Linked DNA regions of Homo sapiens: all the other regions are linked to region 2. Evidence: fine-mapped expression QTL. A gene starts in region 2. Each other region holds a variant in brackets. All regions are shown on one strand. Distances are from middle to middle. Region 1 overlaps CELSR1 (cadherin EGF LAG seven-pass G-type receptor 1). Region 2 holds the start of CELSR1 (cadherin EGF LAG seven-pass G-type receptor 1). Region 3 overlaps CELSR1 (cadherin EGF LAG seven-pass G-type receptor 1).

Region 1 (5,238 bases), 23 kb after region 2:
TCCATGCTCTGCAGCTGGGAAAACTGAGGCAGTGGGGGATGGGGAGGTGGTTTGTATACCTCAGGGGAATGATCCATTGGGGTGAGAACCTGCCCTGGCCAGAGCCAGACCCTCTGGATTCTTCCCCCAGAGTCACCAGCCTCAGGAAGTGGATGAGCCCAGCTCATCCCTTATGGGTGATAAAGGTTCCTTTGCTTTAAAACACGAAAAGGGCATCCCATGGCTTTGCCAGCCGTGACACTGGTTTAGGTGGGATTCTGGGCATGGGTCAGTGGGGGTCAGCTGCAGTGGGAAACGGGGAGGGAGGGTGAGGGGACAGCCCTCGGCCGCCTGCCTTCCTGCCAGTCCCCACCCCGCAGCTTCCTGCCTGGCACAACATAGGGTGTTGCCTGTGTCCTGAGAGAGTCGTGTGCCTGGGTGAGAAGTGGAGGGAATGGACTTTGTGGTCCGTTGGGCCGGAGGAGCCACATAACATGAGCTGGTCGAGGAAATTACCTGGGAGGTGTCAAGGTGGCAGCAAATGAGCTTTGAAAAGTATGTCCTGGCCAGGTGTGGTGGCTCATGCTTCTAATCCCAAGCACTTTGGGAGGCGAGGCAGGAGGCTTGCTTGAGGCCAGGAGTTCAAGACCGGCCTGGGCAACATGGCGAGACCCTGTGTCTATAAAAAAAAATTTTAAAAAACCCCCCAAAACCGGTGTGCTATCCCTCCCCACTCCCCCAACCCCACAACAGGCCCCGGTGTGTGATGTTTCCCTTCCTGTGTCCAAGTGTTCTCATTGTTCAGTTCCCACCTATGAGTGAGAACATGCGGTGTTTGGTTTTTTGTCCTTGCGATAGTTTGCTGAGAATGATGGTTTCCAGCTTCATCCATGTCCTTACAAAGGACATGAACTCATCATTTTTTATGGCTGCATAGTATTCCATGGTGTATATGTGCCACATTTTCTTAATCCAGTCTATCATTGGTGGACATTTGGGTTGGTTCCAAGTCTTTGCTATTGTGAGTAGTGCCGCAATAAACATACGTGTGCATGTGTCTTTATAGCAGCATGATTTATAATCCTTTGGGTATATACCCAGTAATGGGATGGCTGGGTCAAATGGTATTTCTACTTCTAGATCCTTGAGGAATCGCCACACTGTCTTCCACAATGGTTCAACTAGTTTGCAGTCCCACCAACAGTGTAAAAGTGTTCCTGTTTCTCCACATTCTCTCCAGTACCTGTTGTTTCCTGACTTTTTAATGATCGCCATTGTAACTGGTGTGAGATGATATCTCATTGTGGTTTTGATTTGCATTTCTCTGAACTCATTCCTACTTTCTTAACCCCAGTCGACTGTGCTGTGGATGCTGGTCAGTGCTGGAGATCTGCAGGATGGGCGGAATGTCCTGGTGTATCCTCCTGCCGGGGCTGCCTTCCTACACTGGCTGCTGGGAGCCTGTTACACAGATAGGAGCCTGCCAGGCTGGGGAGGCCCCAGTGACTTAGTCATCCCCTGATCCCCCAGCAGGACTTACAAAGCCTCAGCCTCTGTGCCTTTGAGTCCCCAGCCCTGAGCACTGTGTGACTGAGGCCCGTCCTATTGGCTGTGTCCTCCACCTCCAGCCCCCGGGGTGCCCTGCAGCTTGTGCACACCCACTCTGCATCAGGCTCAGCCCTCCCAGAGCTGACTTCACCATGGAGACACAGACTGTCATGCTTTCCTATTTTCTGTCTAAGGCCTTCATAGAGTTTGTGTTTAAGGTGAGCCTCTTTCCCTTTACCCTGATGAAACATGTGCAAACCTTCCTACCTGGGGGTCATGTGACTTGGGAGCATCCACTCACAAGCTAGCCTTTGTGATACGCACTGAGACCGCTGGGCTGTGGTTCCAGCTGTGCTGCCGACAGCTGTGCAGCTCTCCCCAGGAGGGCCCAGGTGGGGGTCACTTGCCTGGCTGTGGGCTGGGAGTGGTGGGCAGGGCCATGAGGTCCCAGAGTGTGGCCAGAGGGCTGATGCACGGGTGGAATGGCTCCTACTGCCCATGCTGTGTCCCATGAGTGTCCCCGGGGGGGGTTGGCTCTGCTGGGACGCTGAGGGGGGTCCACGCTGCCAGACAGCCTTTTCTCAGCCCAGGCTGAAGCTGAGGGGGTGCTGGGGGTGCTTTCTAGAAGGGGCTGGCGAGGACTAGGCTGGTTGCCAGGGCCCAAGAGGGCTGGGGTTTGGACAGAGCCACTTTTGTGGGGAGGCATGGAGTTTGGAGCGGATGCCAGCTGCAAAGAGCACGTCTGAGGTGCTCATCCCCCAGGCCTGAGGGCTGGATTGACGGCGGGTACGGACAGGCATCCCTGGGGTGGGAAGGGGTGGCAGC[T/C]CCAGAGCTTTTCCCGCAGTGACTTGTGCTTGCTGACTTGGGAATGACTCAGCGAGGCAGGACAGGGCTGGGCAATTCATTCAGAAACACCCCTCTTATTCCAGAGCCCAGCCGTGAGCCTCGGCCCTGCAGCCCCGGCTCCCTCCGGGGAGTGACTCTTCTCTTTGATGCTGGGAGGAGGGACCACAGAGTCTGGGGAGGTCTGGGGAGGTGCTGAGAGGGGCCATTGCATTATCCCTGACTTTCAGCAAGGGTCTGGCGGTGATACACAGATGCTGTTGGGGTGTCCTCAGGCCACATCCTTCATGCCCCCACTCCCCACCTCACCAGGACTGGTTCTGACTGACTGGCAGCCAGAGGTGTGTGGCCTTGGGCCCCCGGGGATCAGAGTGCAGGTGGACCTGACTCCAGCCCTCACCTGGATGGACCGTCGGGGCCTGGTGAAACGTCTGGGTGGAAGAGCTTCAGCATCACATAGGCCCGCAGTTGAGGTGTGGCTTAAATAATCACCCTTCAGAAATGCCGGCTCCATTGTGAGTAGTCTCGCTTACTGGGTTTTTGACACTGTCATCTCGAGGACTGGGTGGGATTCCCCTGGTGTTGGAGCCTACCTGGGTGGGAAAGACCCACAGTCAAGGTCAGATGATTCTGACCCCAGGAACCTTTCCCAGGTGGGTGCTGGGATGTGAGAAAAGTGTAGACAAGACAAGTAAAGAGCTGTGAAAAATTACAAATGAGGGCCGGGTGCGGTGGCTCGTGCCTGTAATACCAGCACTTTGGGAGGGTGAGGCGGGTGGATCATGAGGTCAGGAGATCGAGACCATCCTGGCCAACAAGGTGAGACCCCGTCTCTACTAAGAATACAAAAATTAGCTGGGTGTGGATGCGTGCACCTGTAGTCCCAGCTACTCGGGGGGGGCTGAGGCAGGAGAATGGCGTGAACCCCGGGAGGCAGAGGCTGCAGTGAGCTGAGATTGTGCCACTGCACTCCAGCCTGGGCGACAGAGCAAGACTCCGTCTCAAAACAACAACAACAACAAAAAGTATTAATAAACTTATCTATGGCTTTGAGCTTCTGGGCCATATTCCAACCAGTATTTATTAGGAGGCTCTCTGCGCAGGTGAGTGTTGGCTCTGGGGATGTAGTGACGGAGTAAACAGAAGTGTTGCTGCCCGTAGGAAGTGCACACTGCAGGGCTGGGACTCCTATCCCTGGTGCACGAGATAAGGGCCAATTATAACAGTGTACAGGCAGTGTCTCATTATGGTAAACCTAAGGCCTCCCCACATTGATCTTGGCTCCTAAGATTTTATGGTTGAGAATATTGCTTGAAATACTCAAGTTGCAACTTGAAGTGTGTTGGATTGCCTCCCTTTTAGTGTACATGTTTTTGTGTGACTGCATTGGACTTCTTGGTATGGTCAGGTATGTGGGCTGGTTTAAGTGTCCTGTAAAACTCAGGACCCCACGTGGGGAATGCTTTTGAACTTGTATTTTTAATCCTCTTGCACACTTACAGGCCATGTTGCCTCTCGTGATCATGAACACTCTTCCCTGTGTTGCCTGATAGTAGAGGAATAAAGGCCGTAGTTGGATACCGCCTTTCCTTGAGTGTTTCCTTCATGTGTTCTGGCTCACTGCAGCAGCGTTGAGCCCACATGGCCTAGTCCCCAGGTGTATTGTCCCCAGTCGCGTGATTTTGAGAGGCGCCCGTGATGGTGGTCGCGGGTTTGAATCTCGCCCCAGAAGTCACTCACTGGTTAAATGGCCTCCTATTCACTCCACTGGGGAGGGATGGATTCCCGTCCTAGGATGATGGGGATTGCTGAGCACCTGACACTGGACAGATGAGGTCAGCAGCAGTGCGTGAGTAGCACAGAGGCCCAGCCTGGAGGAGGACGTCGCCTGCCATGCGGGGCCACCCGGGGCAGCACTCAGGAGCAGAGGACAGCCAGGTGCTGTGGGGGACAAGCCCGGACCCGGAAGGAACAAGAGGGTGGGGGGCCCCTGGTTCTTGCAGGGGCACATGGGTAGCTTGTCTGAATAATTCCTCTGGATGGCAGGGAACGGAAACCCGCTACCCTCTATAAGCAGGAGCTGTGCCTGATCCCCGTGACAAGAAGGGTTGACTGTGGAGGGATCTTATCCGAAGGAGCAGAGTGGGGCGGGGGACCTGTGGTGAGGCCATTTGAGGCCTCCTGGCTTCAGCAGATGTCAAGGCAATGCATAGTATTGGGCCTTGATTTTTTGTTGTTGTTGAGATGGAGTCTCACTCTTTCACCCAGGCTGGAGTGCAGTGGTGTGATCTCGGCTCACTGAAACCTCCGCCTCCCGGGTTCAAGCAATTCTCGTGCCTCAGCCTTCTACGTAGCTGGGATTATAGGTGTACACCACCACACCGGGCTAATTTTTTTGTATTTTAGTAGAGATGGGGTTTCACCATATTGGCCAGGATGGTCTCGATCTCCTGACCTCATGTGATCCGCCTGCCTTGGCCTCCCAAAGTGCTGGGATTACAGGCATGTGCCACCGCACCTGGCCAGTATTGGACCTTGATTTGGGGGCTGACACCTCAGTCCCTGAGTGCTTCTTGGTCCTCCTCTGCAAATCCGGGACACCTGCCCCTAGCTGTGAGCCCTCGAGGGCAGCACGCTTAGTAAGGGCTTATGAGCGCCGCCGTCACTCTTGCTGCTGCTGTGTTTGCCACACTGAGAGCTCCTGGCAGCGTGGGGGCCACTGGGCTGGGATCTGGGGGTGGGCTCGGGGCACTTCAGGACCCCAGAACCTGAATGACTTGCTGCGTTTCTCGGAGGCAGCATGAAGGACATCCTGGCAGAATTGTAAGAGCTGACACCAGGAGAAAAGCAGGAGGTGACCGTCATGTC
Region 2 (5,238 bases):
AATAAAATAAAACTGTGGACTCTAAATAGGGTGTGGTGGCTCATACCTGTAATCCTAGCACTTTGAGAGGCTGAAGTGGGAGGATCTCTTGAGCCCAGAAGTTTGAGATCAACCTAGGCAACATAGCAAGACCCCATCTCTATTTAGCAATAAATAAAAATAGGCCAGGCACGGTGGCTCATGCCTGTAATCCCAGCACTTTGGGAGGCCGAGGTGGGCGGATCACGAGGTTGGGAGTTCGAGACCAGCCTGACCAACATGGAGAAACCCCGTCTCTACTGAAAATACAAAATTAGCCGGGCGTGAGGCGCACGCCTGTAATCCCAGCTACTAGGGAGGCTGAGGCAGAATTGCTTGAACCTGGAAGGCGGAGGTTGTGGTAAGCTGAGATCGTGCCATTGCACTCCAGCCTGGGCAACAACAGTGAAACTCTGTCTCAAAAAAACAAAACAAAACAAAACAAAACAAAACAAAAAAAAACAAAAACTGCCGACTCTAGATGCAGGCATAGGGAAAAGTACGCAAATCATGTGTTTGGAGTTCAAAGTGTGATCATGAAGCCGACACTCTGGTAACCCTCAGGTCCAGAAGGGGATGCCCCTCCTCCCCCAGAGCCCTCCTGAATGTGCCCATAATCACCTCCTTGTTTTTCTTCATCTTTCCCCTATTTGTGCACACCTCTAAACGTTATGGTGGAGTCGGGCTTGCTGTCGGTCTAAGCGTGAATGGAATGATCTTTTGTCTTTGCTGGACATCCTGTTAGTGAGATTCATCCATCCTCCCCTGTCCCTAGGTGTTGGGCAGTCCCTGTGGTTACCTCGCAGCCTGCAGGTGCCTTATTCCAGAAAAGCAGGCCCACACCTGAACCCACTGGCTGCAGCTGAGTTTTGTTTATTTAAACCCAACCCACTCTGCTTAAAGCCTTATTGCAAAACAGGCACTCCTGGGGTTCTCTGGTTTTTCCTCCTGCCTGGGTCCCCTTCAGGTCCGCCCAGTAGCCTTCCACTGGGAGGCTCCGGGCTCAGGGACCCGCCCTGCCTTCCGGCCCCAGAACTCCTGTCCTTTCATCCTTCCCGGAAAAATCCCAGTGGAAGGGTATATGGCGGGTGGGGAGGTCCTGGACCGCTCACATTAAGGAGACGGACTTTTCTCCTTCCTCCCCTCCCTCCACACACACATTTCCCAACAGGACTCTCCAGTGGAAACCTCGAATTAAAAGGTTCCAAAGCAACTCCACCTTTTAGATCAATATAACGTGTTCAAATCCTTGCTACTGGGAAGAAAATGCTCACATTGGGCTTCAGCACAAAGACACTGTTTCAGCAGCTTTGAGCGAAGTTGGCTGAGTATGCGTGTGACACACACACAGACACATCGCTCCGGGGGAGAAACCCTTCCGGTTCTCCACAGCCGCCCACGGTCCTCGTTGAGACTGGACTCATCTCAGCTCAGCTCAGAGATTTGGCTGCAGGATCCGACCCTCCCTTGCCAAAAAGACCCGTTCTAGGGGTGACTGCGCATTACTCCCACCCCCACCGCTCCGACCGGCCCCAGGAGAAGCCCTTCTAGGAGAGAAGAGGCGACCCCCACCTACCGTCCCCGACCACTGGGAGGCCTAAGGGCTGCACTGGACTCCGGCGCCCCGAGCGCCACCAAGGGAGTGCGCGCCCTTCCCAGCCGCTGGTGGCACAGTCCCAAAGCCCCGCCCATGCGGGGGGTCGCCAAGTCCTAAGCCTCCACCCCCTTTATCCCTGTGCCCCATCCGGAGGCAGGTGTACCCGTCACGCAAACCTAAAGCTGCCCCCGGCCCCCCGTGGTTCCCCGCAGGAGGCGGGGGTGTGTGTCACTTTTCTGAAAGCTCTAAGGTCTCTGCCCCCCGCCCCCCGCTGTCCTCCGTAGGAGGCTGGGCAGGGGCTGTGGCACAGCTCTAAATCCCTGCGGGTGCTTGCTTGCCCCAGGCAGCTTCCAGGACCCGCAGCCCCCCGCCTTCCCCGCAACCCGCTTCGGGAGGAGCCGGACGCTCGGGGATTCCGCGATGCGTCCGCGAACGCTCGGGTCGGGCCGCACGCGGGAGATGAGCGCGCCTCCGCCGTCCTCTCCAAATCCCTTATGTCAACCGGGGTTTTCTTCTTTCATTTAAAAGTTGCGCTTTAAACCAAGTGGGACGCAGATCCGGTAGCTGCCTATTGGGCTTCAAAGTCCAGGGAGTTTTAGTCGGGGTGAAGCATTTTAGCCTCCGTGCGTCTTGCTGTAAAATGGGTAACCCTCCTCGACAGCCTCCGCAGTCCTTAATGGGTGGGGGGGGGCTCCCCGGCCTCTCGGCCCCAGTCCTCCGCCCCCGGGTCCTACCCGCGCGGCACTCCTGGCGGCGGTCTCCGTGGATCTGTTCTGCCGGGGTGGGGAGCCAGGCTCTGAGCCGCGGCCCCGAGCCCGAGGTGCGGAGCCACCGCCCCACGGGTAGCGGCCACCGGGGGCCCCAGCCCCACCTTTCCCGGCCCTGTTGCCTCGGCCCCGCCCCACCGGGAGGCTGGGTGGGGAGGCCTCCGGGGAGTAGGGCCCCAGTCCCCGTCCCGGCCGCGCCCTCGCGTCTCCATAGCGATCCTCTCGGCGCGCACCTCCGAGCCGGCTCCCCCCGGGGCCGAACAATACGCCGCTGGGCCGGGGGCGGGGCGGGGCCGGGCCGGGGGCGGGGAGAGCGCGGGCGGAGTGGGCGCGGGCCAAGCGCACCGCCCAGGCAGCAGCCGGCCGCCGGGGTCTGCGCGGCGCGGAGCTGCCCAGCCCGCTCCGGGAACTCAGCCCCCGCCCCGCGCCGGGCCCGCCCCGCTTCCCACGCCCGTCCGGCCGAGCCCGCGCCGGAGCCACCTGGAGCCGCCTGGAGCCGCCGCCGCCGCCGCAGGTTGATGCGCGGCGCCCTCCCGGGACGCGCGGAGGAGCCATCTTGAAACCAACTTCGCAAACTTTCGCAAAGTGCTCTCGAAGTGGAAGCTGCGGGGGAGGCCGGGCGCGTGGTCCCCACAGTCCCCGCCAGGGCCCCCGGGGAGGCGGGACGCGGACCGCCCCGAGGGCCGGGCGCCCGGGAGCCGCTCCCCGGCCTCGCCGGGTGGATGCGGAGGCGCGCCGGGTGCATGGATTGTGTTCGGGCGCCCGGCTCGGGCTCGGGCTCCGGGCCATGGCGCCGCCGCCGCCGCCCGTGCTGCCCGTGCTGCTGCTCCTGGCCGCCGCCGCCGCCCTGCCGGCGATGGGGCTGCGAGCGGCCGCCTGGGAGCCGCGCGTACCCGGCGGGACCCGCGCCTTCGCCCTCCGGCCCGGCTGTACCTACGCGGTGGGCGCCGCTTGCACGCCCCGGGCGCCGCGGGAGCTGCTGGACGTGGGCCGCGATGGGCGGCTGGCAGGACGTCGGCGCGTCTCGGGCGCGGGGCGCCCGCTGCCGCTGCAAGTCCGCTTGGTGGCCCGCAGTGCCCCGACGGCGCTGAGCCGCCGCCTGCGGGCGCGCACGCACCTTCCCGGCTGCGGAGCCCGTGCCCGGCTCTGCGGAACCGGTGCCCGGCTCTGCGGGGCGCTCTGCTTCCCCGTCCCCGGCGGCTGCGCGGCCGCGCAGCATTCGGCGCTCGCAGCTCCGACCACCTTACCCGCCTGCCGCTGCCCGCCGCGCCCCAGGCCCCGCTGTCCCGGCCGTCCCATCTGCCTGCCGCCGGGCGGCTCGGTCCGCCTGCGTCTGCTGTGCGCCCTGCGGCGCGCGGCTGGCGCCGTCCGGGTGGGACTGGCGCTGGAGGCCGCCACCGCGGGGACGCCCTCCGCGTCGCCATCCCCATCGCCGCCCCTGCCGCCGAACTTGCCCGAAGCCCGGGCGGGGCCGGCGCGACGGGCCCGGCGGGGCACGAGCGGCAGAGGGAGCCTGAAGTTTCCGATGCCCAACTACCAGGTGGCGTTGTTTGAGAACGAACCGGCGGGCACCCTCATCCTCCAGCTGCACGCGCACTACACCATCGAGGGCGAGGAGGAGCGCGTGAGCTATTACATGGAGGGGCTGTTCGACGAGCGCTCCCGGGGCTACTTCCGAATCGACTCTGCCACGGGCGCCGTGAGCACGGACAGCGTACTGGACCGCGAGACCAAGGAGACGCACGTCCTCAGGGTGAAAGCCGTGGACTACAGTACGCCGCCGCGCTCGGCCACCACCTACATCACTGTCTTGGTCAAAGACACCAACGACCACAGCCCGGTCTTCGAGCAGTCGGAGTACCGCGAGCGCGTGCGGGAGAACCTGGAGGTGGGCTACGAGGTGCTGACCATCCGCGCCAGCGACCGCGACTCGCCCATCAACGCCAACTTGCGTTACCGCGTGTTGGGGGGCGCGTGGGACGTCTTCCAGCTCAACGAGAGCTCTGGCGTGGTGAGCACACGGGCGGTGCTGGACCGGGAGGAGGCGGCCGAGTACCAGCTCCTGGTGGAGGCCAACGACCAGGGGCGCAATCCGGGCCCGCTCAGTGCCACGGCCACCGTGTACATCGAGGTGGAGGACGAGAACGACAACTACCCCCAGTTCAGCGAGCAGAACTACGTGGTCCAGGTGCCCGAGGACGTGGGGCTCAACACGGCTGTGCTGCGAGTGCAGGCCACGGACCGGGACCAGGGCCAGAACGCGGCCATTCACTACAGCATCCTCAGCGGGAACGTGGCCGGCCAGTTCTACCTGCACTCGCTGAGCGGGATCCTGGATGTGATCAACCCCTTGGATTTCGAGGATGTCCAGAAATACTCGCTGAGCATTAAGGCCCAGGATGGGGGCCGGCCCCCGCTCATCAATTCTTCAGGGGTGGTGTCTGTGCAGGTGCTGGATGTCAACGACAACGAGCCTATCTTTGTGAGCAGCCCCTTCCAGGCCACGGTGCTGGAGAATGTGCCCCTGGGCTACCCCGTGGTGCACATTCAGGCGGTGGACGCGGACTCTGGAGAGAACGCCCGGCTGCACTATCGCCTGGTGGACACGGCCTCCACCTTTCTGGGGGGCGGCAGCGCTGGGCCTAAGAATCCTGCCCCCACCCCTGACTTCCCCTTCCAGATCCACAACAGCTCCGGTTGGATCACAGTGTGTGCCGAGCTGGACCGCGAGGAGGTGGAGCACTACAGCTTCGGGGTGGAGGCGGTGGACCACGGCTCGCCCCCCATGAGCTCCTCCACCAGCGTGTCCATCACGGTGCTGGACGTGAATGACAACGACCCGGTGTTCACGCAGCC
Region 3 (5,151 bases), 170 kb after region 2:
TTGGCAGTTGGAGGTCTGCAGTGACGAGAGAGAAGACATTGATCGGCTTGTTTTGTTTTCAGATCAACACAGTCACTTCTGTCCTATCTGCAAAGGTTTCCTGCCAAAGAAAGCACCATTATTATGGGAAAAAAGGGATCGTGTAAGTGGGGCTGAACCTGACCGGCCAGCCATGTCGGCTGGGCCCTGAGACCCCGACGTCCAGTCTCTGCGGGGTGGGGCCCCATGAGAGCGTGTAGGCCTCATGGAGGAGGGCTGGGGGCAGCCTGGGTGAGCCCCAGGGCTCCAGAGAGGTTTGCCACGTTGCACCTGCAGGGGCTGGGGGAGGTTAGCTGAGGGGAGGGGGCTGGAGGAGGTTAGCTGAAGGGAGGGGGCTGGCAGCCAGTCCTGGGCCTCAGTCCCTCCCGCCTGGCACAGAAGTATTGGGCTGTCTGGAATCCCCAGAGTGGAGATGGGTGGGGTGGGGGAGATGAAACTTTCTGGTGGGTGGTGAGGGTGTTGCTGAGGCCACTGGAGGGGAGGAGACCCCCCCACCCCACTGTCAGAGGGTGCAGTGGAACAGGGGCCCAGCACAGAGGGAACCTCCAGTGTTCTAGGGAGGAGAGGGGACCTTCGAGGCCCCAAAGGAGCAGGTGGCACCGCGGGAGGACTCAGCACAGCGTCCAGGAGCCACGACAGGGTCAGGAGGGGTTGACGGGGGCATCTGTCAGACAACAAGGCCAGCCCCTGGTGACCTGGTAGCTGAGATGGGACTGAGCCAGGGATGGGCGAAGGGATAATGCTTGCGCAGGGGCTGGGTGTCAGGAGGAGTGTGAGGCTCCCGGCCCGGGAGGAGAGAGCCGAGTCTGAAGGGGGGTAGGGCAGAGAGGGAGAGGCAGTGAGTGGCCTGGAAGGCCGGATATGGGGGTGCACGGGGGGTCTGGGGCCTTGTCAGTTCCTCGTCTTCAGTGCCATCCACGACCTGTGGACCTTGCGGGCTCTGTCACCCGGATTCACTCCATCCCCTCTGAACCCTGGGAGGGGATGCGCCTTTGTCTTCCCCTTGTACACATGGGGAGACTGAGGCAGAGCTCAGGAAGCTGATTGCAGGGTCACAGCTCAAGGGCAGGTCCTGGGCTCTTCCTCTTGCCTCTCCACAGGGTATCTCACGGGAGCTAGTGCAGCCATGGGCATGGCTCAGGCCCCTTGGCCTGGTGTAGTCCTCACAGCTCCTGTTTTCTCATTTGCTTCCTAATGTATTCCACCACCACCCCCACTAACACGAGCTCTGTCTGGTTCCCGGATGAGTCCGTACCTGGCTACGAGGGGAGGAAGGGAGCAAGGTGGATGATGGCTGGGTGGACAGGTGGACGGACAGATAGATGGGCGGACGGGCAGGCAGGTGGACAGGTGGACGTGCAGAGAGGGAGGGAGGAAGGGAGCAGGTGGTGGCGATGGGCACAGGCCTGATCCTGCCCTCCCGCAGCTCCCTGCTGAGGACCGCATTCCTCCTGCTGCTGCTCATCAGCGCCACCTGGCTGCTGGGGCTGCTGGCTGTGAACCGCGATGCACTGAGCTTTCACTACCTCTTCGCCATCTTCAGCGGCTTACAGGTAGGTGACGGCCGAGTTGCCCGCGGGACCCCTGCCTGGCCGCCGTGACACCATCGCTGTGATGCGAAGCAGTGGAGGCCTCTGCGGTCCCAAACCAGCCCTGCCTGGGTCCCGCGTGGGGGCCTCCTGTGGCTGTGAGGACTCAGTCCCTTGTGCAGCCGGCACGGGGGCTGGTGCCTCCTCCCCACTGTGTCTGGGGACGATGACCCTAGTGCCAGGCCAGCACAAGTCCACTTGTGTCTCCAGGGAACAGAAGTGGCCATTTCTAGTCATACCAAGGGCCACACAGCAAGTGGACTTACGACACAGTGGGGACCCCAGAGGGGCCCCAAGGACTGTGGAAGGAGTGCCCAGAAGACTGGCCTGAGCCGGGGCCCTCACTGCCTCCAGCACACCGGGGGTCTGGCCCAGGCATCTCAGTTTCTGAGCTCCCCCACCTGGCCTCCAGATAGCAGCAGTCCCTGAGGAGGGGAGGCCTGGCCGTGTCCTGGGCCGTGTGGCCGGACATGTTGTGTGCACTCAAGGCTGTAT[G/C]CGCATCTGTGCTGGGGCGCCTAAGGGCAGGTGCCTAGGGAGGCAGCAGCAGGTGCTGACCCCACCTTCCTCCCTCCAGGGCCCCTTCGTCCTCCTTTTCCACTGCGTGCTCAACCAGGAGGTCCGGAAGCACCTGAAGGGCGTGCTCGGCGGGAGGAAGCTGCACCTGGAGGACTCCGCCACCACCAGGGCCACCCTGCTGACGGTAGGAGGCGCCGGGGACACCGCGGGACTGGGGGCTGGGCGGCATCTCGAGGGGCGGGGGAGGGTGATCGAGCCTCAGCCCCAGTCCTGCGGCCCGTATGCCCCTCACGGTGGGGATGGCAGAGCCGCCCGCGGTGCACGGTGTGGCTGCCGCGTCAGAACCAGAAAGTGACAGAATCGGCCAGATGGGGCCTGGGTCGCATCCTAACCCTGCTCTTCCAGGCCTTAGAAAGAGAGGGTCAGGACCACCGAGGATCCTGACCAGAAGCAGTGGCCGTAGGGAGGGCGGCAGCCCCTGACCACAGCGCGGGCCAGGATGTGCTTCCCTCAGCTGCCAGGAGGCTCTCGTTTGCAGTGAGGGTTGACTGCTTGGGGCCAGCTCCTCCTGTGTGCCAGGCAGGGGCCCAGCCAGGGTGTGGGTGTGGGGGGCTTGCCGTGGGGACAGAGTCATTCCCCGTGGTGGTCATGTGGTGGCCACCACTTGGCAGTGACCAGCCCCTCCCCTCCCTTCAGCGCTCCCTCAACTGCAACACCACCTTCGGTGACGGGCCTGACATGCTGCGCACAGACTTGGGCGAGTCCACCGCCTCGCTGGACAGCATCGTCAGGTCAGGCCGCAGCTCCGGGTTCGGGGAGGTGGCTCTCGAACTCCCTCAGGTTTTGCCCCTGCCACCCCAACCTGTGTCCTGCCATTCAACCAACATCACCTTCCACCCCCAACTTTCCACCCGCACCTTCTTCCCACCCGCAACTTCCCTCCCTGCCCCGCACCTTCCCTCCCCGCCTCGCACCTTCCCTTCCCCTGCACCTTCCCCCAACAACCTTTCCCCCACCAACTTCCCCCAACCAACCTTTTCCCGTGCAACCTTCCCCCCCGCACCTTCCCCGCACTGCACCTTCCCCCCGCAGCCTTCCCCCCTCCACCTTCCCCCTCCACCTTTCCCCTGACAACCTTTCCCCCCAACCTTTCCCCCAGCACCTTCCCCCCAACCTTTCCCCCCACCACCTTCCCCCCCAGCCTTTCCCCCCACCACCTTTCCCCCACCCAGCCTTTCCCCCCACCACCTTCCCCCACCCAACCTTTCCCCCCACCACCTTCCCCCACCCAACCTTTCCACCCACCACCTTCCCCCCACCCAACCTTTCCCCCCACCACCTTTCCCCCACATACTCGGGAGGCTGTTTTGTCTGTGCTGTTGTTGGGAACACAGAAGGGGTAGGGGCAGAGAATCTTCCAGAGAACTTTCCAGCACCTCCTGTTCCCTGACGGATGATACTGAGCCCACCCTCCCTGGCCTCTCTAGGGATGAAGGGATCCAGAAGCTCGGCGTGTCCTCTGGGCTGGTGAGGGGCAGCCACGGAGAGCCAGACGCGTCCCTCATGCCCAGGAGCTGCAAGGATCCCCCTGGTATGGCTTCCCTGGAGGGGGAGGACCCCGTGGGTTGTTTTTCCCACGTCCCTTCGGTCACTGGACAGACTGCCCCTGAAGAAGCACTAGCAGCCTCGCCATGCTCAGCGTCAGCATGCCAGGGGCCCAGTGGCTCTGCTTGGCCCTCGGTGGGACTCCCTCACCTCCCAGGGCCTGAGCCTCCCTGTCCCCCGCGCATCCACAGGCCACGATTCCGACTCAGATAGCGAGCTGTCCCTGGATGAGCAGAGCAGCTCTTACGCCTCCTCACACTCGTCAGACAGCGAGGACGATGGGGTGGGAGCTGAGGAAAAATGGGACCCGGCCAGGGGCGCCGTCCACAGCACCCCCAAAGGTGAGTGTGTGGGGCACATTGGGCCAGGCTGGGCTGTGGACAGCGGGCTCGGGGCAGGCCTTGGCTATGGCTGGGTCCCTTCCTCCCAGGATATGCCCAGCAGCACTGCAGCCACATGAAAGGACAGCCTGGGGTGGGGGGACTCTGGTTGGGCTCCCCCACAGCCTCTGGAGGGCTCCTCCAGGCCAACCCCCTGAGCGGAGGCAGGAACTCTCAGGGGGGTCTCTGTGGACTGTCACCGCAAGGTCCAGGTGAGGCTGCCAGTGGGGGATTAGCCTGTATAGTTACTGGTACAGATGCGGCGGGGGCTCCCAACAAGGGCCCTGCTGCCAGGACTCGCCCTCCTGGGCCTCAGTTTCCCCACCTTTAGGGTTCAGCCCTACCAGGCCTGCAGGTTGGGGAGAGGTGGGTCAGAGCCACCAGACCCATGGCTCTCAAGGGAGCAGCTCGAGTGGCAGTGCCGCTGCCTGCTGAGCACCGCTCTCGTGCCTCAGGGGACGCTGTGGCCAACCACGTTCCGGCCGGCTGGCCCGACCAGAGCCTGGCTGAGAGTGACAGTGAGGACCCCAGCGGCAAGCCCCGCCTGAAGGTGGAGACCAAGGTCAGCGTGGAGCTGCACCGCGAGGAGCAGGGCAGTCACCGTGGAGAGTACCCCCCGGACCAGGAGAGCGGGGGCGCAGCCAGGCTTGCTAGCAGCCAGCCCCCAGAGCAGAGGAAAGGTGCCTGGGGAGGCCGGGGCTGCAGTGAAAGGCTGGAGGACCCAGAAGGGCCAGTCCCTGGTCTGGAGGTGGGAGTGGGGCTGGGGCTGGTGGGGCAAGTCAGGGCCTGGGCAGAACAGACGTGGCCTCCTGGCCTAGCCCTGGGACCCGGGGAACCAGGAGGAAGGACAGGGGCTGAGGCTGGCTCAGCTGCACACGGCCCAGCAGCTGCCCCCGGCAGCATCACCCGGACTTGACCTTGCCGTGTCTCCTCCTCCCAGGCATCTTGAAAAATAAAGTCACCTACCCGCCGCCGCTGACGCTGACGGAGCAGACGCTGAAGGGCCGGCTCCGGGAGAAGCT

What was found.
Region 1: its variant is fine-mapped to the expression of CELSR1 in unexposed skin (GTEx, PIP 0.93). The same link has a PIP of 0.9 or more in sun-exposed skin.
Region 3: its variant is fine-mapped to the expression of CELSR1 in whole blood (TOPMed, PIP above 0.99). The same link has a PIP of 0.9 or more in blood mononuclear cells.

Annotation. Positions count from the first base shown.
Region 1 is chr22:46,511,945-46,517,182 of GRCh38, reverse strand. The region is part of intron 1 of CELSR1 (cadherin EGF LAG seven-pass G-type receptor 1); the gene reads left to right. Among named protein-coding and RNA genes, the nearest start is that of CELSR1, 23 kb to the left of the region's middle. RefSeq lists enhancers at 1-47, 1,996-2,912. The variant T/C (reference allele first, on the strand shown) is at 2,353.
Region 2 is chr22:46,535,102-46,540,339 of GRCh38, reverse strand. CELSR1 (cadherin EGF LAG seven-pass G-type receptor 1) reads left to right here and starts at 2,720. Exons shown (of 35, transcript NM_001378328.1): 1 at 2,720-5,238. The coding sequence starts at 3,170.
Region 3 is chr22:46,364,170-46,369,320 of GRCh38, reverse strand. It overlaps CELSR1 (cadherin EGF LAG seven-pass G-type receptor 1), which reads left to right. Exons shown (of 35, transcript NM_001378328.1): 27 at 63-142; 28 at 1,466-1,592; 29 at 2,203-2,328; 30 at 2,841-2,935; 31 at 3,632-3,735; 32 at 3,941-4,090; 33 at 4,585-4,809; 34 at 5,070-5,151. Among named protein-coding and RNA genes, the nearest start is that of TRMU, 31 kb to the right of the region's middle. RefSeq lists an enhancer at 1,356-1,415. The variant G/C (reference allele first, on the strand shown) is at 2,124.